Linked DNA regions of Homo sapiens. The protein of the gene in region 3 purifies or fractionates together with the protein of the main gene of each other region. This does not show direct contact. Each region holds a gene or a part of one and is shown on either strand. Other genes may lie near its edges. The genes, in order: KATNAL2, KATNA1, TUBA3E and KATNAL1.

Region 1 (7,874 bases), on a different chromosome or scaffold from region 3:
CAAGAGTATGTCACCTTCCTTCGTGTACCTAGCAGTGTCTTGTGCTCGTGGTTCCAAACACCACTTTTCATGACAGGAGATGAACCTAAACTAATTCTGGGTGGTATCTTTTAAGAGTTTTGTTGCTATTCAGCATATAGAAATGATATTTAAAAAAAAAAGACTTCAGGGTGATAAGAATTCTAGTGAGATGAATTTCAGCTACAGTCGTCTCTAGGCATATGGAAGAGATTGGTTCCAGAACCTCTCCCTGTTCCCCCTGACACTCTTCCCCGTACCAAAATCTGTGCATATTAAGTTGGGGGAAAAGCCAGGTACAAAAGGGAACATAGTATGTTTCTACTTGTATTTAGAAAGGCAGGGAGAAGCTAGGCATGGTGGCTCATGCCTGTAATCCCAGCATTTTGGGAGCCCGAGGCGGGAGGATTGCTTGAGCCCAAGAGTTCAAGAGGAGCCGGGGCAACATGGTGAAACCTGGTTTCTACAAAAAATACAAAAATTAGCTGGGCTTGGTGGTGTGCATCTATAGTCTCAGCTACTGGGGAGTCCCACAGTCGATCCTGGGAAACCCACATATACTCGGGTTTTGCATCCTGTGAATACTGTATTTTGTTGAAAAAAATTCCCCATATAAGTAGACCCGTGCAGTTGAAGGGCCAACTGTTGTTCAAGGGCCAACCGTAACTGAACCTCCAGCTAACTAAAATCACATGGAACCATAACTGTAGGTGCAGCTAAATTCAAGCCCCATCTTCGGAACTGGCACTGAGTTAGATGCAAGATGAAGAACAAAGAAATAGAAGATATCAATGTAGATTTCCACAAATTACCATCTTGAATGGGTAACAAGAATTTACATAAGCTTACATATTTACAACAACTTGAAAATGATATCAAGGTAATAGATAATAGGTTATTTTAGGAAAATCAATCCTTTAAACATATTCTATTATGACTTCCAAATAGGCCATCATATTTTGAAACAGTCATCTAAGGGAATGTAATTTAAGCATAATTTGTTAATCACTTTTCAGAAAATACGTAATATTTTATATTCACTTATATTGATTACATATCTGCCATTCTACAGAGCGTGATAGTTTAACAGGATTTCAAAGAAGGACCTGTCTTACACTGGGACCTAAACCATAAATGGAAGTGCTCTTAATGTCATTGGAAGATTCAGTACCATTTTATAATATAAAATATAACATCAACTATAAATGTGATATTGTAAAGATGGAAACAACCTCTGAAAGAAAGCAAAAAATCGCTTGGCGTGGTGGCCTGTAATCCTAGCACGTTGGAAGGCTGAGGCAGGCAGATCACCTGAGATCAGGAGTTCGAGACCATCCTGGCCAACATGATGAAACCCTTTTTTTTACTAAAAATACAAAAAAAATTAGCTGGGCGTGGTGGCAGGCACCTGTAATCCCAGCTATTCGGGAGGCTGAGGCAGGAGAATTGCTTGAACCCGGGAGGCAGAGGTTGCAGTGAGCCAAGATCGCACCATTGCACTCCAGCCTTGGGGACAAGAGCGAGACTTCGTCTAAAAAAAAAAAAAAAAAGAAAGCAAAAAATCTTACAGGCTATGGGCACTATGGAAGCAAAGGTGCTCAGAACATCTGAAAGAATAATGAAGTTTAAAGTTTCTTGATTCTTTCTTAGAGTATCTAGCATAGGGACTAACATACAGTAGTAGCCTCTCAATAAATGTTAACCAAATATAGTGTACATGTTAAATAATAAATACTTCTTGAATGAAGAAAAAATATGCCACGTCAGAGATTTTTTTCCCCCAGCTTTCATGCCTAAATTGCATGAATAAAAAAAGAGCTGTTGATCAAATTCCCAAAGGAAGGGAGATCATGTTTTGCTGATGGGGGCACAATTAACATCCACACGTAATAGACAATCCATTTCCCAAGCTGCTGGTAATCAAGATCCAGGAGTGGATCTTGAGATCTCACATAAAATCACCTAAAAGCAAAGAAGCTCTGACATCATTTTGTACCACTGTATTACACTAGAACTTATTTTTAAAAACAAAATTAAGAATTCCTACCCGAACGAGTTTTTCTGAATCCCCTCTCCATTTGCTGACAATGGTGGATGCAGAAATGTTAAAGAAGGTTGTTTTACATTCAGTGGCCACAGCTTTGGCCAGTAAAGTCTTTCCTGTACCTAAAGAGAAACACATAAAAGATGAGCAGGCATTTCAACTCCATCCCCCTGCTTATAGACAGAAGTCAGTCTCACACACAAGGAAGGAAGTGACTGCTCAGCTCTCGTGTGCCCCAGTCCTGAAGTGAGGACAGAAGGGGCAACTCATCCTCTGCACACACACTTAACACTGACATCAAAATAGGAAGCTGTGTTTACCTGGAGGGCCGTACAGCAGTAGTCCTTTCCAGGGAGAAAGAATTCCTGTAAATAGCTGTGGATACTAAGGAAACAAGGAACAAGGATGAGGTTTGGTACCAACACATCAGCCTGCATACTCTCAGCACAGACAAGCTGGGAAAGCTGAAGTCAAAGCAGCACAGCTCTAAGATTCAGGGCTCCCTTTTTTGCTTAAGGTTGTCTGCTTCTGACCGAAATAAACAGATCTTATTCATCCCAATTTTATTTTCACGCTTGATTAGAATGCCTGACAATTTTTGCAGCTTTTTAAAGGACCAATTTTTTTGGAAGGAAAGGTATATGTAGGTATTTCTTCCTCTCCGTTAAACAGTTATTTCTTACATGCATAACATCGTTTTCCCCAGACTTCTATACGGAGAGCATTTGGCAATCTTTTGAATGTTGTAAAGCAGGTATGAACTTTAAAATACATACTAGAACCAATTAGTAAAGGTTTATTCGAATAAAGTACAGAGCTACGGTGAAACTTGTTTTGGAAGTTGGGAATATTCAGGGGCAAACGCATTAAGAGACACCAACGCTGAACAGGACATGCGTAGCCTTCAGGAAGTCTCTCCTATTAGTTCAAATTCAAACAATCTCGGGAATGTGGGTGGCAAGGGTTGGTAGAGAATGGGGGAGAGGGTGTGGCAAGGAATATTAGTAAAATTACAACTAGCTATTAGTTTCATGCTAATCCTGATGTCAAATCTCCACACATATGGAGCTTGTAATGCCATGGGGACAACAAATCCAGGGAATTTCAGTGAGATGTTCTATCCTTTTTAAAAGTTTTATAGTTCCATTTAGAGGAAAAGGTGAGTAAATTTCTATTAATTCTGAACACTAGTGTATTTCTTACCCTTAAGTGTGAACACAGAAAGAAAGAGGGGGAAAAGAGAATCCAAATGTATTGATTTTTGTCTCCTTAGAGGAAAGCATCCAAAAATCAGGGGCCACATGGGCTCAGTGGTTTAAGACTAAATAGGTTATTCAATAAAATAAATTCATAATCCTAACAGCAGGAGATTACAGAAAATGGTCACAAATTATTTGTAGCTCCTTTCATCAAGAAATGGAGCCTATTTCTCCAACATTTGAATCTGGGCCTGGCCCTGTGACTTTGGCCAGTGGGACATTAGCAAATGTAAAAGACTTGAAAATATAAGACTAGCAAAAAAATATAAGAGGCATGAAAGATGCTTGTGAATTAGAACTTTCCCTTTCTTGCCTCTTTCTGGGAACCCACTGCCACCATGTGAGCAGGACTGGACTTTCCTGCTAGAGGATGGAGGCCACATGGAGAGACACCTTGGCCGTACTGCTTGTCCCAGCCTTTTCAGTCTCTCCATCTTTTCCAGCTACTCTGGCTGATGGCTCAGACCTGTGATTGAGCTCAGCCAAGAATACCACGTGGAAAAGAGATGAGCCAGCCCAGCTGAGCCCAGCTCCAACTGCCTACCCACGGAATTACAAACAAATAAATTGTTGTCTTAAGGCACTAAGTTGTGGGGTGGTCTGTTATACAACAAAAGCTAAGTTATCACTTATCTCCTCATTAACCCATTTGTAAATCAAACATGGAGAGTATTGTTTTTCTATTTTTCTACCCAGTTTGTAAACTGCACAGAGATTTGTCAGTAATAAGTAATGAGCACAACAGGCTGGCTTTGCTGGTCACTGCCCTGGAAGGGGCTGTCTAGTCTTCACAACCAGCCAGAAGCAAAGCCCCAGACGATCCTGGGGAGGGTAGGTCAGGGGGGCAGGGGTGTAAAGGAAGGATCTGTGGAAACAAAGTGAGAGATTCTCCCCTACCAGAGGTATTTCTACAACAATAAGAATATTTTTAAGGGAGCAGGCTAATTTGAATCAATCTGACAAATCATGTATACTATGGTCTTAGATTTTAAAGTTTCACTTAGCTCAGACACCTGTCTTGAACTAATATGTAATATGATTTTAAATGATCTAGAATGGACCAGGCTTTGGTGCTCCAGGGTTGAGAAAGTGCTGTGACACAAGCAAAGAGTTAACGTGTGGACAGAAAATCATCCTGCCCTTCCCTTCCTGATAGTTGTGTGACATACAGCTTGTCCAATGGATAGTGAACAGAAATAACCCCCAAGAGGCTTCCCGTCCTTACCCTTATAGGATACACAACAGCTTCTTTGACTAACTGCTTGGCTGCATCAAGTCCAATAATGTCATTCCACTTTATGTTTGGATTATGGAGATAAATGTCCTGCAATGCACATTTGATCATTTTTTTAAAACTGATGTTTTCCTCTACAGCTGTAATAAACTTGGGAGCAGCAGAATACTTGACTTACAATAGGATATAAAGTGCTGGTGATAAAAACTGTTCATATTATATATATATATATATATATATATATATATATATATATATATATAAACACATATATACATTGTAATTTTGGGTTAGTTCACCAAAGGTATGCCATGAAAATATTCAATGATTTTCCCTGAAGAAGACATTGATAACACATTGTGGTATTTTTCAGAGAGAAAAAAAAATCTCCTAACAACAGACTCTACCTGTTTTCAGTCAATAGCAAACCATGCTGATTTATAACCATAATTAAAGAAGCTACAGAATATGCCTTCAACTTACATTAGGTTTTACTGTGAAACATAGTTCCTAGCCAGTGCCTGGCCTTGCTCTTGCTCCTTGATCTCACAAACACTTTCTTAATTTGTTGCATAAAGGAGATAATGCTCCTCTGAAACCAATTTCTCTTTTTTCGCTAGCGATCATTCCCTACTTCCAGCAGGAGCAATTGCTTCTACAGAATTCAAGGAAGCTGACAACCGAGCGAAAGTGCAGTTTTTCTCCTCTTATAGAAGAGCCCTGTAGCAACCATCTAGGATAATCAATTAAGGTAGCTTTTACTGATAACTAATTTACAGTTTCCAAACTTCAATTTCACCAGACGCCTCAGAGCAGTCACTAAGGGGCCTTTCTCAGTAGGAGTTGTTTCAGGCAAACTGAATATCTAGAGTGTTTCCTCAAAAAAGCCTGAAAAGCCTTCTTTCCAAAGTCATTCTGAGTGACTACAGAAAAAATCTGAAACTAATTATTATATTTATATAATTTTTAATAAGTAATATATGCACATGGACCAAAAATATAAATACATTTTTTAAATGCTGGTGAGATGTTTGTGCTACTCCTGCTCCCCACCCATCCAGTTCCCTCCACCATAGGAGGTTCATTTTTATTTTTTTAAAATTTTTTTTAAATTTTTTAAATTTTTATTTATTTTTAATTTTTCTTCAAACTGGGTCTCGCTCTGTAGCCCAGGCTGGAGGGCAGTGGCATGATCACCACTCACTGCAGCCTCAACCTCCCGGGCTCAAGCAATCCTCCCACCTCAGCCTCCCAAGGAGGCACACACCATGCCCAGCTATTTTTTTTCATTTTTTGTAGACACGGAGTCTCACTATGTTGCCCAGTCTCAAACTCCTGGACACAAGTGATCCTTCTGCCTCGGCCTCCCAAAGTGCTGAGATTACAGGTGTGAGCCACTGCACCCAGCCAACTTTCACTTTTATTAGAGAAAGTTCTTGTTTGTTTGTTTGTTTGTTTTTTCTGAGATGGAGTCTCACTCTGTCACCCAGGCTACAGTGCAGCAACCTCCGCCTCCCAGGTTCAAGTGATTCTCATGCCTCAGCCTCCCAGGTAGCTAGGACTACCAGCACATGCCACCATGCCTAGCTAATGGGGTCTCTAGAAATGGTCTCTGGGCATATGGAAGAGATTGGTTCCAGAACCTCTCCCTGTTCCCCCCCCGACACTCTCCCCCATACCAAAATCTGTGCATACTCAAGTCCCACAGTCGATCTTGGGAAACCCACATATACCAGCTAATGCTCTCTAGAAATGGGGTCTCATTATGTTGCCCAGGCTGGTCTCCAACTCCTGGCTAATGTTTTGTATTTTCAGTAGAGATAGGTTTTTGCCATGTTGGCCAGGCTGGTCTCAAACCCCTGGCCTCAAGTGATCTACCCATCTCAGTCTCCCAAAGTGCTAGGATTGTAGGTGTGAGCCACTGCATCTGGTCTAGAGAAAGTATTTATAAAAGTACTTTGGTCATGCATGATATTTACAATCCATTCTTGGATTGAAGGGTAGAGAAAGGACTCAGTCTTCCTTATTCTGTCTATAGAGCCTGGATCTACATGCAGGCCCACCAGCCACTCACATTCTTATTACCGTCCTTTCTTAGTGAAATCTCGGCACACAAGGAAGATTCATTTACCTAGGTATTAAAAGCATCCATAGATAACAGCAGTATTTCTTGACCTCTTCTAGAGTTGAGTTCCACAAGGTAATGTTTAATTTCCCAACTGACAGTTTCTCCTTGTATCAATCCAAAGTTAACAGTCAGAACTCAACAGGACTACCTCATGAGGTGGTGAGCTCTCCGTCACTGTAAGCATTCAAGCAGGAGCAGGGTTTCTACCTCCTATGCTACTATAGAAAGGATTCCAGATGGAATCATCTCAGGCCATTTCCACTCTATAGTTCTATCCTCATAGTCATGTTACCCTTTTGCAAAAATGGTAATGAGACTATTAATTTGGGGTTACTGCAGCCTGGCTCAGTCCCTCATCCCCTCTCACTGGTAAAAACCTTATAGATGGTCTCCCCATCTCCTTTTCTTTGCTATTCATTCATCTCACTGTCATAGAACAAGCCATCCACAAGCACATGGGATGATCCCATCCTCCGACGGGCGCCTTTCTAAGGTCCCCTCTTCTATAGGTGTGTTCTCAGCCCTGGGTACTGCTCACAGCACCCTTCCTCAGGAACCCTGCCTCTCTCCACCCGTTCCCCACCACTCCCTGCTTCTTAGGTGGCCCACAGGACATGTGCACAAACTGCAATTTCTCATGGAAGTGCCTATGCCCAGAACAGCTCCTAGCCTCCCTCTTCCACTTTTTCCCTTAGCGATTTCCTGTCTTCTTTCCTAACACTTTCCCCACCCCTCCCTCCTTCATGCTCTTAAAGTGCACTTTGTCCCTGGGATGAGAAACTCTTGAGGGCAAGGACTATGCTCTGACTCGTTCACATTTGTGTCTCCAGCCCACAGCACACACCTGACACACAAGAGGCATACAGGAAACAACTGCTGAGCTGAACAGAGACAGCTCAGGAGCCCTTAGCTTCTCAGAGGAGCTGTGAATTTTGGGGATCATTTTAAACCCCCCTCTGAGCCTGCCTAGGTTTCAGTCTTCAATTAAATATGAAGCAATAGAAATTAGAAAAATACCCTATAACTCAGGAATCTATTTTATTTCCCAGGAACTTGCCCAAAGTCACACAGCTAGCAAGAGAAGGATCTAGAAATCAAAGGCAGGTCAGCTAATTCCAAAGCCTGTTCTTCACTGCCTTCTGGTTCCACAGTGCAAGCTGGAAAAGTCCGTAGTCTGGATGGTAGTCTTTC
Region 2 (7,874 bases), on a different chromosome or scaffold from region 3:
GGAGGCTGAGGCAGGGGAATCTCTTGAGCCCAGGAGATGGAGGTTGCAGAAAGCCAAGATCACGCCACTGCACTCCAGCCTGGGCAACATAGCAAGAATCTGTCTCAAAAAAATAAAAAATAAAAAAAAAATCCAGGCTAACTAAATCATACTACTAATTTATATTCTTATTTAAATTGCATAGCCGGGTGTGGTGGCACATGCACGTAATCCCAGCTACTCGGGAGGCTGAGGCAGGAGAATCGCTTGAACCTGGGAGGCGGAGGTTGCGGCAAGCCGGAGATCACACCATTGCACTCCAGCCTGGGCAACAAGAGTGAAACTCCGGCTCAAATAAATAAATAAATAAATAAATTGCATAACAGGCCAGGCGCGGTGGCTCACACCTGTAATCTCAACACTTTGGGAGGCCAAGGAGGGCAGATCACCTGAGGTCAGGCATTCAAGACCAGCCTGGCCAACATGTTGAAACCCCATCTCTATTAAAAATACAAAAATTAGCTGGGTGTGGTGGCGGGCACCTGGAATCTCAGCTACTTGGGAGGCCGAGCCACAACAATCGCTTGAACCCAGGAGGCGGAAGTTGCAGTGAGCCGAGATCGCACCATTGCACTCCTGCCTGGGCAACAGAGCAAGACTCCATCTCAAAAAAATAAAATAAAATAAAATAAAATAAAATAAAATAAAATAAAATAAATTGCATAACAAATTGAAAAGTTAGGCATAACTTTAAAGTTCTACAAGAATAATTAGCTGGGCATGGTGGCCCATGCCTGTAGTCCTGCCTACTTTAGAGGCTGAGGTGAGAGAATTGCTTGAGCCCAAGGGGGAAAAAAAACCATCAAAGCACAACTTGTGAAAGTTTCATTTTTGTCAAACTTTTATTTTTATGTTTTAGAGACAAGGTTTCATTCTGTTGCCCAGGCTGTACTACAGTGGCACGATCATAGCTCACCATAACCTCAAACTCCTGGGTTCAAGCCATCCTCTCACCTCAGCTTCTCAAAGTGCTGGGATTACAGGTGTGAGCCACCATGCCCAGCCCTACTTTGATAATTTTTATTCTGTTTAATTAACTTTTAAAATGCTGATTAATCCCAATTACCCTGATTTGATCATTAGATATTGTATACAGGAATCAAAATATAATGTGTATGCCCAAGATATGTACAACTATTATATATCAGTAAATAATTTCTAAAAATCAATACAACACTGATCAGAATATACTAATTTTATGGCTAATGGGTCACAACCTACAGACTAAAATAGGTCTCAATTCATATGCAACCAAGGTATTTTTTTAAAAGCAGTCTTTTTTTTTTTTTTCAAATATTTTTTAGAGACAGGGTCTCATTCTGTCATCCAGTCTGGAATGCAGTAAAATGGCCCTAGTTTTGAGAGTAAGGCTCCACCTCAAAAATAAAAGAGAAAAGGAATCTTGACGCAATTTAAAAACTAATCTTGGGCAACATAACAATAACCCATCTCTAAAAAAAATATAAGCCAGGCATGTTGGTTTGTGCCTGTGGCCCCAGCTACTCTGGAGGCTGGGTGGGAGGATTGCTTGAGCCTGAGGAGTTAAGGCTGCAGTGAGCCATGATTGCACCACCATACTCCAGCCTGGGGAACAGACCGAGACTCTGCCTCCAAAAAACCCTCAAAAACCTATATATAGTTTTGATTCAACTGTATTATAGTAATGGGTCTTAACTCAGCCTAAAAACTATATATGGTGATGGTTGTACATTATATATGTATTTAATGCCACTGAACTGTATACTTAAAAATGGCCAAGGCCAAGTGCAGTGGCTCACGTCTGTAATCTCAGTACTTTGGGAGGCTGAGGAGGGCAGATCACCTGAGGTCAGGAGTTCCAGACCAGCCTGGCCAACATGGCAAAAACCCCGTCTCTACTAAAAGTACAAAAAAATTATCTGGGTGTGGTGGCACACACCTGTAATTCCAGCTACTCGGGAGGCTGAGGCAGGAGAATCACTTGACCCCAGGAGGCAGAGGTTGCAATGAGCCGAGACTGCGCCACTGCACTACAGCCTGGGCAACAGAGTGAGACTCCGTCTCAAAACAAACAAACAAACAAAAAACAGTAAAGTGTTATGTATATTTTACCACAATAAGAAAATGGTAGGCCAGGCATGGTGGCTCATGCCTGCAATCCCAGCACTTTGGGAGGCCGAGGCAAGCAGATCACCTGAGGTCAGGAGTTTGAGACCAGCTGGCTACATGGTGAAACCCCGTCTCTACTAAAAATACAAAAATTAGCTGGGTGTGGTGGTGGGCTCCTGTAATCCCAGCTACTCGGGAGTCTGAGGCAGAAGAATCACTTGAACCCGGGAGGTGGAGGTTGCAGTGAGCTGAGACCGCGCCATTGCACTCCAGCCTGGGCAACAAGTGAGAAAATCCATCTCAAAAGAAAACAAACCAGAAAATGGTAAAAAATAAAAATAAAAATAAACTATATATATAATATTGAAATGAAATTTAAGATGATAATGTTTTGCTTTATAACTTAAATGATTTAATCTTAAGTACCTTTAAACAAAAGCTTAGACTTAAGTAAAAGTCTTTGGCCTAACAACAAAAGATCTAAAAAGTCCTTCACTGACAAACTTAAGACTCCTTATGAAATAAAATATTTACTAGGCCGAGCATGGTGACTCATGCCTATAATCCTAGGAATTTGGGAGGCGGAGCCAAGAGGATCATTTGATCCCAGGAGTTCAAGACCAGCCTGAACAACATAGTGAGATGCCATGTCTGTAAAAAATAAATAAATAAAAGATAAATAAAATAAAATAGTTGCCCTTTCTGGTAATTACATGGATATGGTAAAGGATATGGAGGGACAGATATAGGAAAATAGATGAAGTTCAAAGAGATAGGCTGTTTCTCTCAAAAAAATTAAGGACAAATATTGAACAATATTTAAAAAGCAGCTCAGCAGAATCTGAGGTATAATATTCTATCTAGAAGACCACCTCAAAAAGACTATTACTTTCATTTTTTTTTTTTGAGACAGAGTCTTGCTCTGTTGCCAGGCTGGAGTGCAATGGTGCGATCTCGGCTCACTGCAACCTCTGCCTTCTGATATCAAGTGATTCTCCCACCTCAGCCTCCCAAGTAGCTGACATTACAGATGCCCGCCACTATACCCAGCTAATTTTTTTGTATTTTAGTAGAGATGGGGTTTCACCATGTTGGTCAGGCTGGTCTCGAACTCCTGACCTCAGGTGATCTGCCCACCTCAGCCTCCCAAAGTGCTGGGATTACAGGCGTGAGCCACCATGCCCCGCAAGACTTATTTTCTTAACCTTTTTTTCCTCTTTGACATAGTTGAGCCTTGTTAGAAATACCACCCTCCACTGGACCTGTAAGTTCTACAATTTCCAATTTTAAATTTTTGTTAGTCCTCAGTAACTGAAGTTTCTCAATGGGATTCAACATAATCTGCTTCATAAAGTTCTATTATACAAGGAATATGAGGCCAGGCATGGTGGCTCACACCTGTAATCCCAGCACTTAGGGAGGCTGAGGTGGAAGGATCACTTTAGCCTAAGAGTTTGAGACCAGCCTGGCAAACATAGGGAGATCCCATCTCTACCAAAAATTGAAAAATTAGCAGGTCACAGTGGGGAACACCTGTGGTTCCACCCACTCAGGAGGCTGAGGTGGGAGGATTGTTTGAGCCTGAGCCTGGGAGGTCAAGGCTGTAGAGACTGCACTCCCTCCTGGGCAAGAGAGCAAGACCCTCTCTCAAAAAGTTTTTTAAAAAATATGGTACCTGTGAGATTCACAAGCCATTTACAGTTTCGACAATGGCTTAATAAAGTCTACTCTATTTTTACGAAGTAAAAATCTGATCAAAAAATGTCAAAACCATTGTTTTAAAAAACTCTTGGCTAGGCGTGGTGGCTCATGCCTGTAATCCCAGCACTTTGGGAGGTCAAGGTGGGCAGATCACCTGAGGTCAGGAGTTCAACACCAGCCTGGCCAACATGGTGAAAGCCCGTCTCTACCAAAAATACAAAAATTAGCTGGGTGTGGAGGCAGGCGCCTGTAATCCCAGCTACTCGGGAGGCTTGAACCTGGGAGGTGAAGGTTGCAGTGAGCCGAGATCGTGCCACTGCACTCCACCCTGGATGACAAGAGCAAAACTCTGTCTCGAGGAAAAAACAAAACAAAAAAAACCCCTCTTATTAGATTCCAGCAATTAGAATTAAGTAGAACTCATAATACTGCTGATGGTGAAAGTGGATTATTATTCATATAATAAAGTGTCAAGTAATATTATATAGAAATCTGTGTAATAACTCACATACTCATGTTTTGTTTTGTTTTTTATTTTTGAGACAAGGTCTAGCTCTGTTGCCCAGGCTGGAGTGTAGTGGTACAAGCATAGCTCACTGCAGCCTCAATCTCCCAGGCTCAAGTGATCCTCCCACCTCAACCTCCCTAGTAGCTAGGACTACAGGCACACACCACCACATCTGGCTAATTTTTTTATTTTTGTAGAATGAAGTCTTGCTATGTTGTCTAGGCTGGACTTGAACTCCTGGCCTCAAGTGATCCTTCTGCTTTGGCTTTCCAAAGTGCTAGGACTACAGGAGTGAGCCACTGTGTACTGTGCTCGGTAGTCATACAGTCTTAACATGTAACTACATACAGCATTGACATCTGATCTAAATTTTCTCTTCCGAGTACTTAAGCCATTAAAACATACAGCAGCCATTACTCTCACCTGTTGCCATTTCTGCTGGAGGTATGTATCTTTGACTGAGTACAGATACTTGTTCATTTGGTCAAGAACTCCCTGATAATAGACCATCGCAGAGTCATAGTTTCCCAGCAATGCATATTCACGAGCCAATTTTACATTCTCACTAATCATAAGAAGACTCATGTTCAACTGTAAGCTAAAAAGAAGAAGAAAAAAAGAAACACTTTAGGTTTACATGTCTCTTAAAAATAAGTATAGTTATTAAAAAATACTTTCCAGGGCTCCCTCAAGAAACAATCACACATACCACACTTCCCATCTCTATATGTGTGCTCATGCTATTTCACTCCTTTAAAAAAAACATTGTTTTTTTTTTTTTTTTTTTTTTTTGAGACGGAGTCTCGCTCTGTGGCCCCGGCTGGAGCGCAATGGCATGATCTCGGCTCACTGCAACCTCTGCCTCCCGGGTTCAAGCAATTCTCCCACCTCAGCCTCCCAAGTAGTTGGGATTACAGGCACCCACCGCCATGCCCGGCTAATTTTTTTTGTATTTTTGTAGAGATGGGGTTTCACCATGTTGGCCAGGCTGGTCTCGAACTCCTGACCTCAGGTGATCTGCCCGCCTCGGCCTCCCAAAGTGCTGGGATTACAGGCATGAGCCACCGCGCCTGGCCTCAAAGAAATATTTTATTTAGGAGGCTAAGGCAGGCAGCTCACTTCAGGCCAGGAGTTCAAGACCAGCCTGGCCAATATGGCGAAACCCTGTCTCTACTAAAATGTAAAAACTAGCTGGGCGTGGTGGCACATGCCTATAGTCCCAGCTACTTGGGAGGCTGAGACACAAGAATTGCTTGAACCAGGGTAGCAGAGGTTGCAGTAGGCCAAGATCGTGCCACTGTACTCCAGCCTGGGAGATGGAGCAAGACTCTGTTTAACAAAACAAAACAAAAAACAGGCCCGGTGCGGTGGCTCACACCTGTAATCCCAACACTTTGGGAGGCTGAGGTGGGTGGATCACGAGGTCAGGAGATCAAGACCATCCTGGCCAACATGGTGAAACTCGGTCTCTACTAAAAATACAAAAATTAGCTGGGCATGGTGGCACGTGCCTGTAATCACAGCTACTCAGGAGGCTGAGGCAGGAGAATCACTTGAACCAGGGAGTCGGAGGCTGCAGTGAGCCGAGATCGCACCACAGCACTCCAGCCTGGCAACAGCATGAGACTCTGTCTCAAAAAATAAAAAAATAAAATAAAATAAATTTAAAACATTGTTTTAAAAAAGTTCCCACATTCAAACCCTCCCTATTGTCAAAGCCCAGCTCAGATGGCAGTTTTCCTAGTATGTCTACCCCCTGAACTCCTCAGTTCAAAATAAACTCTCCCTCCTCTAAAGTCCCCTTGCACTTTACTGTGACTTTCATCCCAAGACACTTGTCTACTTCAAATTACAGTTTCTATATATGTCTTATCTCTAGTAGACTGTTATCTGACAGTAGGATTTGCATCTGAAAGGTGTGAGACTATATGATCCTTGCATGACACACATTTTATTAAACATCTGCAGAATAAATAGTGAATATTAGATACATTTTTTGAAGCAGTGTGGATTAGCAGAAGGCGTATGTATTTTGAAGTTAGAAAAATCTTGGCTAGAATTATAATTGTGCCACCTTAATCAAGTCCCTTAACTTTTTTCTAAGCCTGTTTTAATATCTGTGGAACTGCCATAGCAACTACTTTCAGGAGTTACGCTATAAACAATAAATGGCTATTTAAAGTACTAAGCATACTACTTGACAAATAGTAGGTCTTCAATAAATGTTAAATGTGTCTGCCATGAAACTTTCTATATATGAGAACCTAATCCAACCTTTGAACCTAGGAGTTCAAGACCAGCCTGGGCAACACGGCAAAACCCCATCTCTACAAAAAATACAAAAATTAGCAGAGCATGGTGGTGTGTGCCTGTAGTCCCAGCTACTCAGGAGGCTGAGGTGGGAGGATTACCTGAGCCTGGGGAGGTCAAAGCTGCAGTAAGCCGAGATAGTGCCACTGTACTCCAGCCTGGGCAACAGAGACAGAGTGAGACTGTGTCTCAAGAAAACATTAAAAAAAGACAAAAAAGCTCCAGGCCCAGATGATTTCTGTAAGTATGGTGGGGGTTTTTTTGGGTTTTTTTGGGTTTTGTTTTTGTTTTTTTGAGATGGAGTCTTACTGTGTTGCCAGGCTGGAGTGCAGTGGCGCAATCTCGGCTCACTGCAACCTCTGCCTCCCAGGTTCAAGCGATTCCCCTGCCTCAGCCTCCAGAGTGGCTGGGACTACAGCCATGCATCCACCACGCCCGGCTAAATTTTTGTATTTTAGTAGAGATAGGGTTTCACCATGTTGGCCAGGTTGGTCTCGATCTTGGGACCTCGTGATCCGCCCGCCTCGGCCTCCCAAAGTGCTGGGATTACAGGCGTGAGCCACCATGCCTGGCCTCGGGTATTTTTGTTGTTGTTGTTTTTGTTTTTGTTTTTTTGAGACGGAGTTTTGCTCTTGTTGCCCAGGCTGGAGTGCAATGGTGCAATCTCGGCTCACCACAACCTCCGCCTCTCGGGTTCAAGCGATTCTCCTGACTCAGGCTCCTGAGTAGCTGGGATTACAGGCATGTGCCAACACGCCTGGCTAATTTTGTATTTTTAGTAGAGACAGGGTTTCTCCATTTTGGTCACGCTGGTCTCGAACTCCCGATCTCGGGTGATCTGCCCACCTCGGCCTCCCAAAGTGCTGGGATTACAGGTGTGAGCCACCGCACCTGGTCTGGCCTCGGGTTTTTTTTTTTTTTTGAGATGGAGTCTCACTCTGTCACCCAGGCTGGAGTGCGGTGGCATGTTCTCGGCTCACTGCAAGCTCCGCCTCCCGGGTTCATGCCATTCTCCTGCCTTAGCCTCCCGAGTAGCTGGGACTACAGGCGCCCACCACCACGCTCGGCTAATTTTTTGTATTTTTAGTAGAGATGGGGTTTCACCATGTTAGCCAGGATGGTCTTAATCTCCTGACCTCAGGATCTACCCGCCTAGGCCTCCCAGAGTGCTGGGATTACAGGTGTGAGCCACAGCGCCTGGCCTGCCTTGGGGTTTTTTTTTAACCAA
Region 3 (8,448 bases):
TTGTCTCAAAAAAAAAAAAAAATTACCCGGGCATGGTGGTACATGTCTGTGTTCCCAGCTACTTGGGAGGCTGAGGTGAGAGAATCGCTAGAGTCTGGGAGGCAGAGGTTGCAGTGAGCCAGGATCACACTACTACAGCCTGAGAGACAAAGCGAGACCCTGTCTCAAAAAATAAATAAATAAATAAAGCTCACCACAGATATATAGTGTGATGACTCAGAAAGAGTTCAAAAGACATCACTGACCTGGGCGCAGTGGCTCACGACTGTAATCCCAGCACTTTGGGAGGCTGAGGCAGGCAGATCACCTGAGGTCAGGAGTTCAAGACCAACCTGTCCAACATGGCGAAACCCCGTCTCTACTAAAAATACAAAAATTAGCCGGGCATGGTGGCAGGTACCTGTAATCCCAGCTACTTGGGAGGGTGAGGCCAGAGAATTGCTTGAACCCGGGAGGCAGAGGTTGCAGTTAGCTGAGATCGCACCACTGCACTCCAGCCTGGTCGACAGAGCAAGACTGTCTCAAAAAAAAAAAAAAAAAAAAAATCACTGAATCAATTATCAACTCTGGTTCACTAACTTATGCCCACATGCCTAGCCCATGGAACAGGGATAGTCTCCCCAAAGGATGTGGGCCTTCAAGGCCAGTGTTATTTTGTGCATCTGCTGCTTGCTGAAAGGCCTCCATGTCACCCAGTCATACCTTAAATCCAGTCGGGCACCAATCCACAAACTGGATAGTGCGCTTGGTCTTGATGGTGGCGATGGCCGCATTGACGTCTTTGGGGACCACGTCCCCCCTGTACAACATGCAGCAGGCCATGTACTTGCCATGGCGAGGGTCACACTTGACCATCTGATTGGCTGGCTCGAAGCAGGCATTGGTGATCTCGGCCACAGACAGCTGCTCGTGGTAGGCCTTCTCAGCTGAGATGACTGGGGCGTAGGTGGCCAGGGGGAAGTGGATGCGGGGGTACGGCACGAGGTTGGTCTGGAATTCCGTCAAGTCCACATTCAGGGCCCCATCAAATCGCAGGGAGGCCGTGATGGAGGACACGATCTGCCCAATCAGGCGATTGAGGTTGGTGTACGTGGGACGTTCAATGTCCAGGTTGCGCCGACATATGTCATAGATGGCTTCATTGTCGACCATGAAGGCACAGTCAGAATGTTCCAGGGTCGTGTGGGTGGTTAGGATGGAGTTGTAGGGCTCCACCACGGCTGTGGAGACCTGGGGGGCTGGGTAAATGGCAAACTCTAGCTTGGACTTCTTGCTGTAATCCACTGAGAGCCGCTCCATGAGCAGAGATGCGAACCCAGAGCCAGTGCCGCCCCCAAAGCTGTGGAAGATGAGGAAGCCCTGCAGTCCTGTGCACAGATCCGCCTGAGAGAAACCAGACAACGTGAGCCAATGCCCGTGGAAGCCACACCACCAACCTCCAACAAGCCAGGGCCGCTTCTCTTTGCCTCTAAAGAGTTGATATGGATTCAAATCATCCATAATAAACATGCAATACACTTTGAAGCAAAGAAAAGCAAAGATCTACGGACAAATCACCATTGCAGACTCAGTAGGACTCAAGATGCTGGTCTAAGTTTTTGCTTGTTTGTTTGAGACGGAATCTTGCTCTGTTGCCCAGGTTAGAGTGCAGTGGTGCAATCTCAGCTCACTGCAACCTCCACCTTCCGAGTTCAAGCAATTCTTCTGCCTCAGCCTCTCAAGTAGCTGGCAGTACAGGTGTGTGCCACCACACCCAGCTAATTTTCGTATTTTTAGTAGACATAGAGTTTCACCATGTAGGCCAGGCTGGTCTCAAACTCCTGACCTCAGGTAATCCACCTGCTTTAGCCTCTCAAAGTGCTGGGATTACACGTGTGAGCCACCGCGCCCGGCCAAGATGCTGGTCTAAGTGTTGATAAAATGACTTCCCTTTCACATTCCAAGAACTACCCCTCCCATGCAAGACAATGGCCACATGAAACCTTCTCTTCTTACCAGTTTGCGGATCCGGTCCAGGACTAGGTCAACAATCTCCTTGCCGATGGTGTAATGGCCCCTGGCGTAATTACTGGCTGCATCTTCCTTCCCGGTGATCAGCTGCTCTGGGTGGAAGAGCTGCCTGTAGGTCCCTGTGCGCACTTCATCTGCAAAAGAGACAGTGTGTACTGTGAATTTTTAAGGCCTGTACTCACCAAGATGGACACATTCCAGGAGTGTTCACTTCTACAGAGCACATGCTGTTCAAAGTACATGACCTACATGTCATAGGTCAACAGTGGCAGTGTCTGGTAGAAAATGTCTCTGTGTGATAACCAAACTGCATATGCAATTTATGACTCTACGACGTTAAACTCAGCTTGTGGTATAAATGTCAGCACGACCAGTTCCCAGTGAAAGGAAATAAGCTCTTGCACTCCTACTCAGGTACATAATTCTTTCCTACGTGTAGCTACATCAAAGGCTGTAAGTTAAAAACTCTTACAACCTGGGCAGTCACCAGGTCAGTGTGACTTCTGCAGGGCAGTCCCATCAGGGCACCCTGGATGACCTGGGTCCCACAGGCTTTCAGGTGATGCTGTCATCTCCTGGGGGGCCACTGAAAGGTGCTGCCTCTTTGTAGCTCTCCTTGGAAACTACCTCAGGCTGCGAATCTGAAGGAAGCAAATGACTGTTCTGTACTTACCTTCTATGCCTAAGATGCAGGTCAAGACTCTCGTGCACCAGCATAAGAGAATGCACAGCATTCGGGAGGGAACCAATGCCACTGCACCCTGCAGGCAGGGCCACCTGAGCAGGGCTGAGGCAGCCATGAGGGAATCTCTTCACAGCCCATCTTACTGCTGGCAAAGCAGCTTTTCCCTGTAGGTCAGGTTTTCCTAAATTAGGAGCCGAGTCTCACAGACACTTTCATCACAAACCTTTCAGTTTCTCTCCTAACAATGCCATGGGCATATGCCTGTCTATCCCATCCTTTCAGCAGGAGGATTCAAAGGAGCCCACACGGGGCTTTACCAATGCTCTCCCACCCTCTCAGGAAAGCTGCCATCCAGTGCCCAGGCACCTACCGACCACAGTGGGCTCCAGGTCCACAAACACTGCTCTGGGCACGTGCTTGCCAGCTCCAGTCTCACTGAAGAACGTGTTGAAGGAGTCGTCCCCGCCACCAATGGTTTTATCACTTGGCATTTGACCATCGGGCTGAATTCCATGTTCAAGGCAGTACAGTTCCCAGCAGGCATTGCCGATCTGGACACCCGCCTGCCCCACGTGGATAGAGATACACTCGCGCTGTGAACCGGAACATAAATGTGAACCCATTCATTTCAAGGCAACTTGAAACTATATGGCATGCAAAATATTCTAATTTAATATTTATATAGTGCTTCAGTATCTGGCGCTTTCACAATCGATATTTCCTAGGAGGGTTAGTGACTGATCCCTTTATCGCTGTGAAAACTAATTGCTGTAAACCATACTAGCTAGTAAGTTCTAGAAGTAGCCCTAGAACCTGTTTGCCACTACACAAAACTTAGGTTATTTTAAAACTTGGAAGCCATTTAATGTCAATAATCAACCCCACATTATAGCCCGTCACAGTAATTCTCTGAAGAATAAGTAGCAGTTTTTGATTATGTCCTGATCAAAGGATAAGGTAGTCGGGTTGGGTAAGGAAATACAGAGTAGGTCCCAGGTCACCATGGTCCAAGCCCAGGTGCTCAGTGTGTGTCCTCTCTCTGCCCCCCAGTTCTACCCCGTCCATCATTCACCACCTGCTCTGTGCTCTCGAAGGCTGACCCTTGAGAACAGCATCAGAGGCCTTCCTCGCCCTCTGGCTTCTTGCTGGTTTGGTCAATGGCAGGCAGCAGTGGGATACTGGGGGGCTGGAGGAAAGCAGTGCCAGGGTACTCCCTCCTTGGCCCCTTCCTGCTCAACTGCTGTGGGTGACCTGAATCCCTCTCAAGGCTACACTTTTGGCAGGCTGCCCTCTTCATAAAACTACCCTCCTAATTTCTTGTAACCACGCCCTCTCTCTACCCCTTGAAGCCTACGGGTGTAATGGCTCCCAGACATCATCAGTGCTGGGACACTGCACTGTCCTTTGGTGGTTTCTTTAAACTCTGCCAAGCTGGGTGTGGTGGCTCATTCCTGTAATCCCAGCACTTTGGAAGGCTGAGGTGAGAGGATCACTTGGGACCAGTTTGAGACCAGCCTGGGTAACATAGTGAGTCCCTGTCCCTATGAAAAATTTACAAATTAGCCAGGTGTGGTGGCACACACCTGTAGTACCAGCTACTCGGAAGGCTGAGGCGGGAGGACTGCTGGAAGCCAGGGGTTCAAGGCTGCAGGGAGCCGTGATCTTGCAACTGTGTTCCAGCCTGGGCAACAGAGCATTTATTGAGTGCTGTCTCAAAAAAAAAAAAAAAAGAAAAGAAAAGAAAAAAGAAAAAGAAAGGAAAAAAAGGATAACTGACAAATCACAGCTATTCAGACTTGGGACTTGGGAATCTGTTATGTTAATGGGCTGCTTTTTTTGTTTGGTTTTTTGAGGCAGGGTCTCTGTGGCCCAGGCTGGAGTGCACTGGCGCCATCACGACTCACTGCAGCCTCAAAGTTCCAGGCTCGGCTGATCCTCCCACCTCAGCCTCCCGAGTAGCTGGAACCACAGACTCGCATCACCATGCCCGGGTAATTTTAGTATTTTTTTGTAGAGACTGGGTTTCGCCATGTTGGTCGGGCTGATCTTGAACTCCAGACATCAGGGGATCCGCCCGCCTCCACCTCCCCAAGGGCTGGGATTCCAGGCGTGAGCCGCCGCGCCTGGCCTAACGGTTGCCTTTAGGTGAACAAGGCAATGTTGCAGCAGCGTCTGAGCCTTAATTCCTCATCTGACCAATGTCCACAGCCCCAACCCCCGTCACCGAAGGCTCCTGCAGCTCCTCAGCTGTTTCCAGTAGCACAAAGACGTGTGAAGCGGGAGCAGCGCCCTCCTGTCTTCAGGAGGCGACGCCACTATTTGCTCTCTGGGGGACGGGATACCGTCAATGGTCCCCGTCCACTAAAGGCCGGCAGCTTCATCTAAAACAAAAGCCGCCGTCCCTGCCCTGGGACCTGCAGATCCAGGAAACGATCCCGTGTCCTCCTGTCCCGCACTAGACCCTGCGTCCTTCTCTGGCCTCCTCTCAGCGCCCAGGCCCGCAACAACGTCCCTCTGTCCACCCGAGGCCAACTTCGTCTGCCTGGGCATCTGCGGGGCGGGAGTGACCCGGGTCTTACCATGGCGAACTCCGCTGCTTCAGCCCAACGCTACTTCCAGACCTCAACCGGCTGCCACAGCTGCTGAGCGCCCAACTGCAATGACCTGCCCACGCGCGCCGCACAGGATTGGCCTGCCGGTGCCAGGCCGCCATTGGCTCGGAGTTCCTGGGAGGCAGGCCGAGGGCCGGATCCCAGTTCTGATTGGCCGTTGCTCAACACGTGTAGTGGGGATGCTCTCTGATTGGATGCAGGATTGGCGGGAAGGCAGCGGGGTCATCAAAGGCTGCGCGGTTGCTGAGGCATTTCCGGGGTGTCTTCCGACCAGGATTGGAACAGCTACTGCGCTGCCTCTGTGGGTCGCGGAACATTGCCTTGCTCCCAGTGTGCCACTGCCCCTCCCTGATTGCCCCAGGCCTGCTCCTCTCCCTGCCTAATTCAGATCTTTGCAAACAAGGCCACCTCTGAGAGGCCTTGCCGCCATCTACCCAAGTCACAGCAGCACCGCAATTATCCCCCTCTTCCCTGTTCCCACCCAGCACCCGGGAAGTGGCAGGATTCAATCACTTTTCTGACCCAAAGGGAGAAAACGGGCCGGGCGCGATGGCTAACGCCTGCAATCCCAGCACTTCGGGAGGCCGAGGCGGGTGGATCACTTGAGGTCAAGAGTTCCCGAGACCAGCCTGGCCAATATGGTGAAAACCCATCTCTACTAAAAACACAAAAATTACCCTGGCTGGTGGTAGGCACCTGTAATCCCAGCTACACGGGAGGCTGAGGTAGGAGAATCGCTTGAAACTGGGAGGCAGTTGTTGCAGTGAGCCGAGATTGGGCCACAGCACACTCCAGCCTGGGCAACAGAGCCAGACTCTGTCTCAAAAAAAAAAGGAAGAAAGGAGGCAAAATTAACGTAAGTGGAGAGGTTGGGCCAGGCACACCAGCTCATGCCTGTAATTCCAGTGCTTTGGGAGGCCACGGCAGGAGGATTGCTTCAGGTCAGGAGTTCGAGACCAGCCTGGGCAACGTGGTGAGTCCCACCTTGCCCGTTTCTACAAAAAATAAAATTAGCAAGGCATGGTGGCATGCGCCTGTAATCCCAGCTACTCAGGAGGCTGAGGCAGGAGAATCCCTTGAACCCGGGAGGCAGAGGTTACAGTGAGCTGAGATCACGCCACTGCACTCAAGCCTGGGTGACAGAGCAAAACTCCATCTTGAAAAAAAAAATAGTTTATTTGGGCCAAGTTTGAGAAGTGCAACCCTGGAGATGCAAGTTGTCTTAAAATATTAGCAGCAGTTATAAGTGGGTTTTTAAAGGAAAAGAAGAGGCAGTTCCTAAGTTGTTTACCAAGAATTTGAAATTAGAGAAGTCTTGCTGTGTTGTCCAGGCTAGTCTTGAACTCCTGACCTGAAGGGATCCTCCTACCTCGGCTGGCCTAGCCTGAGGAATTTATATTAAAATAACGTAAGCTATTTATTGGGCCAGGCGTGGTGGCTCACACCTGTAATCCCAACACTTTGGGAGGCCAAGGTAGGAGGATCACTTGAGGTCAGGAGTTCGAGACCAGCCTGGCCAACATGATGAAACCCTGTTTCTACTAAAAATACAAAAATTAGCCAGGTATGGTGGTGAGCACCTATAGTCCCAGCTACTTGGGAGGCTGAGGTAGGATAATCACTTGAACCCAGGAGGCAGAGTTTGCAGTGAGCCAAGATCATGCCATTGCACTCCAGCCTGGGCAACAGAGTAAAACTCCATCTCAAAAAAAAAAAGAAGGCAGGGCGTGGTGGCTCACGCCTGTAATCGCAGCACTTTGGGAGGCCAAGTCAGGCGGATCGCGAGGTCAGGAGATCGAGACCATCCTGGCTAACACGGTGAAACCCCGTCTCTACTAAAAATACAAAAAATTAGCCGGGCATGGCTGCAGGTGCCTGTAGTCCCAGCTACTCTGGATGCTGAGGCAGGAGGATGGCATGAACCCGGGAGGTGGAGCTTGCAGTGAGCCGAGATAACACCACTGCACTCCAGCCTGGGCAACACAGCGAGACTCTGTCTCAAAAAAAAAAAAAAAGCTATTTATTGTCTCTACATTGTCTACATTGTCTTTGGTATCACAAATTCCAGGAACAGGAAGATAATGGGTTGAGCTAGTCAGGAACAAAATGCCTTTAAACAGTCACCCCAGGGCATGAGTACAAGGCGTGTGACTGAAGTCCATATTCCTGTCTCTCTGGGCCTGATAAATTCTGCACACCTCACATAACTCAAAGTGCTGTGAACACTTTTTCTTATTTCTTTGGTGAGAGGGAGTGGGTTTATGGCCAACAGGAAAGGGGAAGGCACACCCCTGTCCCGGGAAGAGCAGAGTCAGGACCCAATACCCATTTTGGAGGACTTTGGAACAGTCACCTGATTCTTCCTTTTTATTTATTTATTTTTTGACACTGGTTCTCACTATGTTGACCAGGCTGGACTCAAATTCCTGGCCTCAAGTGATCCCCAAGCCTCAGCCTTCCTTGTAGGCTGGGACTACAGGTGTGTGATTCTTCCCAGTTTGAGTCTTCCATCCCTAAAGATCATCTTAGTGTGTATTCAGTTCTGGGGAAAGCCCTGGAGGAGACGTGCTGGCTTACCCCCAGCTCATCACCAGGATGCAGCATCCCACCATGTCATCTCCCTGGAGGGTGGCCAAGCAGGCCCTTAACTTTCCCTCCTGAGAGGAGAGCAGAGAAGAGAGAGGGAGCTCCCCCAGTGGGATGGGACTCACGAGGTCCAGGAGTTGAGACTTTTCTGTGGCCTTTGGGGACCTCTGAACAGTGCAATCAGGTCTTCCCTTAGAAAGATGCTTTGGCAAAAGGAGGAGGGGCAGGGACGGAGTTCTGCCGACAGCTGGGAAAATCAGAGGAGGCCACTGGCCCCTTCTCCCCAGGAGGGTGAATCCTTCTGTATTAGCCCCAGGCACCCTAAAAAATACCACTGACTGAGTGGCTTAAACAGCAGGGTTTTATTTTCTCACAGTTCTGGAGGCTAAAAGCCCCAGAGGCCTCTCTTCCTGGTTTGCACACAGCCACCTTCTCACCATGTCCTCCCACGGGGAGGTAGCATCCAAGCGCTCTGGTCTCTTATAAGGACATGAATCCTGTTGGATCAGGGCCCACCCTTATGACCTCACTTAACCTTCATCATCTCCTTATAGG
Region 4 (7,874 bases), on a different chromosome or scaffold from region 3:
GAAACTGAAGTCAAATTTTGAAATACTGAATTGTACACTTGGAAATGAACATATGGCTAATGTTAAGATAATTCAAACCACAGACCAGTTTGTCTACAGCCTAAATAGAGGAATAAAGACACGAATCACTCCCTCTGAAACATGAATATCCACATATAGTGGACATGGAATTCCCTACATGGAGTATTTGTAGGCAACTGAAGGCATAAACTCTGGCTTCTCTTGATCCCATGTGCAGCTCTCTTTGACCAACTATAAATAAATATGAAGGTCTGGAAGAAAAGGATAATTCATAATCACAAAAAAGCTATTAGGAAGGCCAAGCCAACAAAAATGTCAAGTTCTTAAATATTTTGCTATAGTAGCAGTAGGAACTATTGCAACCTTATTGTATGCCACTAAACTTGGATGCACATGGGAAAAATGCGAGCAGAAAAGGTGAGAAAAACAGATGCTGTGGCTTTAAAGAAAGGCTACTAAAGTCAATTTAAGTGCAGTTAGAAAAATAAGAAAAAAAATAACTGCAGTGACAGGAACTGTCTAAAACTTATGATGTCGCTAAACTGAAAAAATTTTAAACGTGTATCTTCCCCAGCTTACGCTGATCATTTTTGCTCATTTGCATGTGTTTAAATAATGCCAACAAAAACTAAATAATATTACTTTAGGTTGATGCAGAAAGGCTCCAACACAAAGCTAAACTAATCTTAGGTTGTCAAAGTCATTATTATCGAGTTAGACACAATAATTTCTTTTTTTTTCTTTTTTGAGACAGAGTCTCGCTCTGTTGCCCAGGTTGGAGTGCAGTGGCGCGATCTCGGCTCACTGCAAGCTCCACCTCCCGGGTTCATGCCATTCTCCTGCCTCAGCCTCCCGAGTAGCTGGAACTACAGGTGTCCGCCACCACACCTGGCTAATTTTTTGTATTTTTTAGTAGAGGCGGGGTTTCACCGTGTTAGCCAGGATGGTCTCGATCTCCTGACCTCGTGATCCACCCGCCTCGGCCTCCCAAAGTGCTGGGATTAGAGGCGTAAGCCACCGACACAACAATTTCTTAAAAATCCAAAGATCAAAAACATCAACGACCACTGCTATATAATTTTCATCTCACAATGAAAAATAAAGTTATATGTAAAAAAAAAGGGACAAATGGGAAACCATTTTAAAGAAATGGGTAGCTGCTTTCATGTCTAACTACACTGGGCTAACTACATTGACTTTAAGACCAGTCCTCCTGCGAAGTCTATAACTAATGTCTAAAATCACAGATCATTAAAAAAATACCTGCAAACATTAGTGATGTCAGCACCAGAATAGCCCTCAATCTTCTCGGCTATATCTTCCAGTTGAATATCAGGATCTAATTCGACCTCACGAAGGTTGATCTTCAGAAGCTCAGCTCTTCCTTTTGCTGTTACAAGATTTTGGTGGTGTTGTTAGATGTTTTACTTTACAAATAATTTTGCTGAGAAATGACATATTAACATTTGGGGGAAAAATGAGGCCAATGCAAAGAAGAGTCAATAACTGTGTGTCCATTAGTATTATTACCAATTCACTGCATGACTCATGGAATCATTTAAATTCCTATGTGCCTCTGTTGCAGTAACTAAAAATTGAAAAAAAAAAAAAAAAAAAACACCAAAAACCACCTAGGTTTTCTTTAAAGACTGTGAAGATACCTACTATGAGAACAAAGAATCTGAGATTCTTCATGAAAAATATAAATATCAGTTTTCAAGCACCGGAAATGCTTCTCAAAAAAAAAATACTTAGCCTGGTGTTACAAAATTACACTGCATCAAGTGTAACTCCTATGAATTACTTTGCTCACCTGTTAGTATGACATGGATCTCCAGAACTCTTATCAGTAGTTTAAAGAACATTTCCTGAAAATCAGTAATTGGCACAAAAAGCTCATTAATGTATTTTTTACTTGGAGAGCCAGCCCACAGACATTTGCTGTTCCAGTATGATTTAAATGTGAACTGAATAAGTTCAAACATACTAGAGAATTTTTAAAATAACCAATCATGCTTGCCATTTCACTAGTGCTTTTAGTGGCAAATCTGCTTAGCACAGCACACTAAGATAATGCATTACTAGTTTATCTGGCGCTCTACTATTTCCTGAGATACAAAATGAAATTTAATTTTCTTCTACTTTTATTTTGAAAAATGCCATATATACAGGAAAAGAAAATCAATGAATACCCATTTCCCTTTCACTGAGATTCACCAATTGCTAACATTTTGCCATTATCACTCTAGCTGGCTCGTCATCTCTCCTCCCTCAACTTTTTGAATTGAGCGCTAGCTGCAGGCATCACAACACTTCACCTTAAATTCCCCAGCATGTATCTCCTAAGAAAAAAGGTAGACATAGCATTTCTCACCCTTATCAGGAGATTTAATACTGGAATATTAGTGTCTAATACACAATTCAAAGCAAAGTTTCCCTATTTGTCCCAAGCCTTTATAACTTTTACAAACCATAACACATTGCAGTCAGTTACTATGTCTCATTCACCTTCTTTCATCTAAAACAGTTCCCCAGTGTTTACTTTTTGGTTCATTTTGTTTTGTCTTTCATGAAATTGACAATTCTCCCCCAATTGATCTTATACAGCCAAAGCATTCCAATAAAGATCCTCCTAAAAGGTCTATCTGTAAAAACTAACGGGCAGATACCAAAATGTTCACAGAAATGGAAAGAACCAAGAACAGCCAAGATGCTCTGGAAGAGCAACAGCAAAGTGGAAAGAAATGCTCTATCAGATTTTAAGACTTACTACAAAGGTATAGGACTCAAAGCAGTGTGACCCTCTTGTGGAAATAGACAAATAGATCAATAGTACAGAACGGGGTGCCCAGCAGCAGACCGAAGCATAATTACAGACACTGAATTTATGACAGAGGTGGTTCAGGCCGTGAGGGGAAGGAGTGTCTTTTCAATTAATGATGTAAGAACAGCTGACTATCCACAGGGAAAAAAATGAAATCAGGTCCTACATCATACTGTGCACAAAAATCAGTGCCAGATATATTACATCTAAATGCAAAGTTGTAAGTATTTTATAACAGAGAAGAATATCTCAATGACCTCAGGGAAGTATTCTCAAGACATATATTCAAAAAAAATCAACAAGGAAAAGATTGATAAACTGACCACATTAAAATGAGGAACTTCTATTCATCAAAAGATACTGTCGACACAGTGAAAACAGATAAGTTACAGAGTTTGAGAAGATATTTGTAACATATATAAGCAACCAAAGACTTGTATCAAGAATATTTAAGGAATTTCTAAAAATCAGCAAGAAAAAGTCAGACTACCCAATAGCCAGCGTGCCTGGCAATGCACAGTGGCCGGACCCTGGTGCTTGCTTGCTCATGCACCCCTCACCACTCTGTGCCTGGCTTGCCCTTGGCCGGCGTGGGATCAGGGCCAGTAGCTCCAGCCGAGCTCAGCCTGCCAGGCCCAGTGGTCAGAACGCTGGGCTCAAGCAAAACTCCAGCAAAGGTGCCACCAAGGATCCTGCAACACAAGCACTTTGGAAAACATATTGAATTCATCTATTAATACTGCAGCTGTGCGGCACTACCTAGCAATTCACTCCTAGGATGGAATGCTCCATTCTGGCATTCTTACCACTATACATGTATGAAAATGTTCACAGTAGCACTGTTCATAATAGCCTAAAACAAGAAATAATTAAAATGTCCACCAAACAATATGATGGATACATTTTGATATAATCACATAATAGATGGTATGGGTTAAACCATGTCCCTCAAAATTTTTAGGCAACTCCTAACCCCCAGTACTTCAGAATGTGACTGTATTTAGAGACAGGAGAGGTAATTAAGGTAAAATGAGGTCATATGGGTGGGCTCTAATCCAACATGACTGGTGTCCTTATAAGAAGAAGCGGTTAGGACACAAAAACCCCTAAGGGGAAGACCACATGAAGACGCCGGGACAAGATGGCCACCTATAGGCCAAGGAGAGAGGCCCCAGAGTGCAACCACCCTGCCTACACCTTGGTCTTGTACTTCTAGCTTCCGGTACTATGAGAAAATACAAACTACCATCAGAGAATACTACAAACACCTCTACGCAAATAAACTAGAAAATCTAGAAGAAATGGATAAATTCCTCGACACATACACCCTCCCAAGACTAAACCAGGAAGAAGTTGAATCTCTGAATAGACCAATAACAGGAGCTGAAATTGTGGCAATAATCAATAGCTTACCAACCAAAAAGAGTCCAGGACCAGATGGATTCATAGCCGAATTCCACCAGAGGTACAAGGAGGAACTGGTACCATTCCTTCTGAAACTATTCCAATCAATAGAAAAAGAGGGAATCCTCCCTAACTCATTTTATGAGGCCAGCATCATCCTGATACCAAAGCCGGGCAGAGACACACCCAAAAAAGAGAATTTTAGACCAATATCCTTGATGAACATTGATGCAAAAATCCTCAATAAAATACTGGCAAACCGAATCCAGCAGCACATCTAAAAGCTTATCCACCATGATCAAATGGGCTTCAACCCTGGGATGCAAGGCTGGTTCAACATACACAAATCAATAAATGTAATCCAGCATATAAACAGAACCATAGACAAAAACCACATGATTATCTCAATAGATGCAGAAAAGGCCTTTGACAAAATTCAACAACCCTTCATGCTAAAAACTCTCAATAAATTAGGTATTGATGGGACGTATCTCAAAATAATAAGAGCTACCTATGACAAACTCACAGCCAATATCATATTGAATGGGCAAAAACTGGAAGCATTCCCTTTGAAAACGGGCACAAGACAGGGATGCCCTCTCTCACCACTCCTATTCAACATAGTGTTGGAAGTTCTGGCCAGGGCAATTAGGCAGGAGAAGGAAATAAAGGGTATTCAATTAGGAAAAGAGGAAGTCAAATTGTCCCTGTTTGCAGATGACATGACTGTATATCTAGAAAACCCCATCGTCTCAGCCCAAAATCTCCTTAAGCTGATAAGCAACTTCAGCAAAGTCTCAGGATACAAAATCAATGTACAAAAATCACAAGCATTCTTATACACCAATAACAGACAAACAGAGCCAAATCATGAGTGAACTCCCATTCACAATTGCTTCAAAGAGAATAAAATACCTAGGAATCCAACTTACAAGGGACATGAAGGACCTCTTCAAGAAGAACTACAAACCACTCCTCAATGAAATAAAAGAGGATACAAAGAAATGGAAGAACATTCCATGCTCATGGGTAGGAAGAATCAATATCGTGAAAATGGCCATACTGCCCAAGGTAATTTATAGATTTAATGCCATCCCCATCAAGCTACCAATGACTTTCTTCACAGAATTGGAAAAAACTACTTTAAAGTTCATATGGAACCAAAAAAGAGCCCACGTCGCCAAGTCAATCCTAAGCCAAAAGAACAAAGCTGGAGGCATCAAGCTACCTGACTTCAAACTATACTACAAGGCTACAGTAACCAAAACAGCATGGTACTGGTACCAGAACAGAGATATAGATCAATGGAACAGAACAGAGTCCTCAGAAATAATGCCGCATATCTACAACTATCTGATCTTTGACAAACCTCAGAAAAACAAGCAATGGGGAAAGGATTCCCTATTTAATAAATGGTGCTGGGAAAACTTGCTAGCCATATGTAGAAAGCTGAAACTGGATCCCTTCCTTACACCTTATACAAAAATTAATTCAAGATGGATTAAAGACTTAAACGTTAGACCTAAAACCATAAAAACCCTAGAAGAAAACCTAGGCATTACCATTCAGGACATAGGCATGGGCAAGGACTTCACGTCTAAAACACCAAAAGCAATGGCAACAAAAGACAAAATTGACAAATGGGATCTAATTAAACTAAAGAGCTTCTGCACAGCAAAAGAAACTACCATCAGAGAAAAGAGGCAACCTACAAAATGGGAGAAAATTTTCACAACCTACTCATCTGACAAAGGGCTAATATCCAGAATCTACAATGAACTCAAACAAATTTACAAGAAAAAAACAAACAACCCCATCAAAAAGTGGGCGAAGGACATGAACAGACACTTCTCAAAAGAAGACATTTATGCAGCCAAAAAACACATGAAAAAAATGCTCATCATCACTGGCCATCAGAGAAATGCAAATCAAAACCACAATGAGATACCATCTCACACCAGTTAGAATGGCAATCATTAAAAAGTCAGGAAACAACAGGTGCTGGAGAGGATGTGGAGAAATAGGAACACTTTTACACTGTTGATGGGACCGTAAACTAGTTCAACCATTGTGGAAGTCAGTGTGGTGATTCCTCAGGGATATACAACTACAAATACCATTTGACCCAGCCATCCCATTAGTGGGTATATACCCAAAGGACTATAAATCATGCTGCTATAAAGACACATGCACACGTATGTTTATTGTGGCATTATTCACAATAGCAAAGACTTGGAACCAACCCAAATGTCCAACAATGATAATGTGGATAAAGAAAATGTGGCACATATACACCATGGAATACTATGCAGCCATAAAAAATGATGAGTTCATGTCCTTTGTAGGGACATGGATGAAACTAGAAATCATCATTCTCAGTAAACTATCACAAGAACAAAAAACCAAACACCGCATGTTCTCACTCATAGGTGGGAATTGAACAATGAGAACACATGGACACAGGAAGGGGAACATCACACTCTGGGGACTGTTGTGGGGTGGGGGGAGTGGGGAGGGATAGCATTAGAAGATACACCTAATGCTAAATGACGAGTTAATGGGTGCAGCACACCAGCATGGCACATGTATACATATGTAACTAACCTGCCCATTGTGCACATGTACCCTAAAACTTAAAGTATAATAATAATAAAATTTTAAAAAAAAGAAAATTAACTTCTGTTGTTTAAGCCACCCAATCTTTGATATTTGTTATGGTAGCCCTAGCAAACGAATATGACAGAATACCACACAGTAACAAAAATGAATGTGAGGTGGCAGCCTTATATGTGGTATATATATGTGGTAACATGGATAAATCTTAAAATACATTGAGCAAAAGAGGCAAGATACAAATGAACACAATCAGTATGATTTCATTTATGTAAAGTTTAAAAGGAGGTAAAACTTTGCTTGGGGATACATTGTTAGGTGATGAAATTATATGGAAAAGCAATACATTATCTCCATAAAAGGAAATCACTGTAAGGGAAAGGTGGTGACCCCCAGCAGAGGGCAGGAAGGAACCATGCTGGGAGGGAACACGCTGGGAGCTGCTGAGTTCCAGGGAGGCTCCACTTCTCCTGGAGCGGGTAACAGGGCTGTCTGCTTCACCAGCTACTGGATAAACTAAACATTTTAGGAACTGTTTCTGTATTGAGTTATGTTTCACACACCACAAACACACAGTGAGACCAAGCAGAGCAGTGCCAAAAGCAGCAAGCAGGTGTGATTTGGGATTACCAGAAAACAGAAAGGGCAGGACTGGAAAACGTCTACCTCCACAGTTCCCTAATCCCAGGAGCCCCCATCCTTGATCCCAGCCAACAGGCTCGCAGGGAGTACACCTGCTCGACATGTGGTTTAGAGCCAAAGAAGTCCTCCAGTCAGGCTGGTGGCAGGAGGGGTAGGGAGAGAAAGGGGTGAGGGGAGGAAGCTCCTGTGCCTACCGATACAGAAGGCTGATGTGCGCCTGATGTCCAGGTAAGAACTGATGTTAACATAAGAGCATCATTACACAATGTTCCACATAGAGCCAGTGAATGACAATGAACAAATACCCCTTTTCATTCTTACAGACCCAATATTAGAATACCACTGTATGTGTAAATCAAACGTTTCACTG

The links.
Region 1: the proteins of TUBA3E (region 3) and KATNAL2 purify together in Homo sapiens (tandem affinity purification; one large-scale study listed by IntAct). This does not show direct contact.
Region 2: the proteins of TUBA3E (region 3) and KATNA1 purify together in Homo sapiens (tandem affinity purification; one large-scale study listed by IntAct). This does not show direct contact.
Region 4: the proteins of TUBA3E (region 3) and KATNAL1 purify together in Homo sapiens (tandem affinity purification; one large-scale study listed by IntAct). This does not show direct contact.

What each region holds. Positions count from the first base shown.
Region 1 is NC_000018.10:47,063,792-47,071,665, reverse strand, and holds part of KATNAL2 (katanin p60 ATPase-containing subunit A-like 2), read right to left. Parts: intron 4,646-7,874; coding exon 4,547-4,645; intron 2,447-4,546; coding exon 2,383-2,446; intron 2,185-2,382; coding exon 2,066-2,184; intron 1-2,065.
Region 2 is NC_000006.12:149,633,627-149,641,500, forward strand, and holds part of KATNA1 (katanin p60 ATPase-containing subunit A1), read right to left. Parts: intron 4,935-7,874; 5' UTR 4,922-4,934; coding exon 4,760-4,921; intron 1-4,759. UniProt on the Homo sapiens protein: Catalytic subunit of a complex which severs microtubules in an ATP-dependent manner. Microtubule severing may promote rapid reorganization of cellular microtubule arrays and the release of microtubules from the centrosome following nucleation.
Region 3 is NC_000002.12:130,193,084-130,201,531, forward strand, and holds the start of TUBA3E (tubulin alpha-3E chain), read right to left. Parts: upstream 5,357-8,448; 5' UTR 5,278-5,356; coding exon 5,275-5,277; intron 3,289-5,274; coding exon 3,066-3,288; intron 2,145-3,065; coding exon 1,996-2,144; intron 1,384-1,995; coding exon 703-1,383; intron 1-702. UniProt on the Homo sapiens protein: Tubulin is the major constituent of microtubules, a cylinder consisting of laterally associated linear protofilaments composed of alpha- and beta-tubulin heterodimers.
Region 4 is NC_000013.11:30,209,032-30,216,905, forward strand, and holds part of KATNAL1 (katanin p60 ATPase-containing subunit A-like 1), read right to left. Parts: intron 1,412-7,874; coding exon 1,285-1,411; intron 1-1,284. UniProt on the Homo sapiens protein: Regulates microtubule dynamics in Sertoli cells, a process that is essential for spermiogenesis and male fertility. Severs microtubules in an ATP-dependent manner, promoting rapid reorganization of cellular microtubule arrays.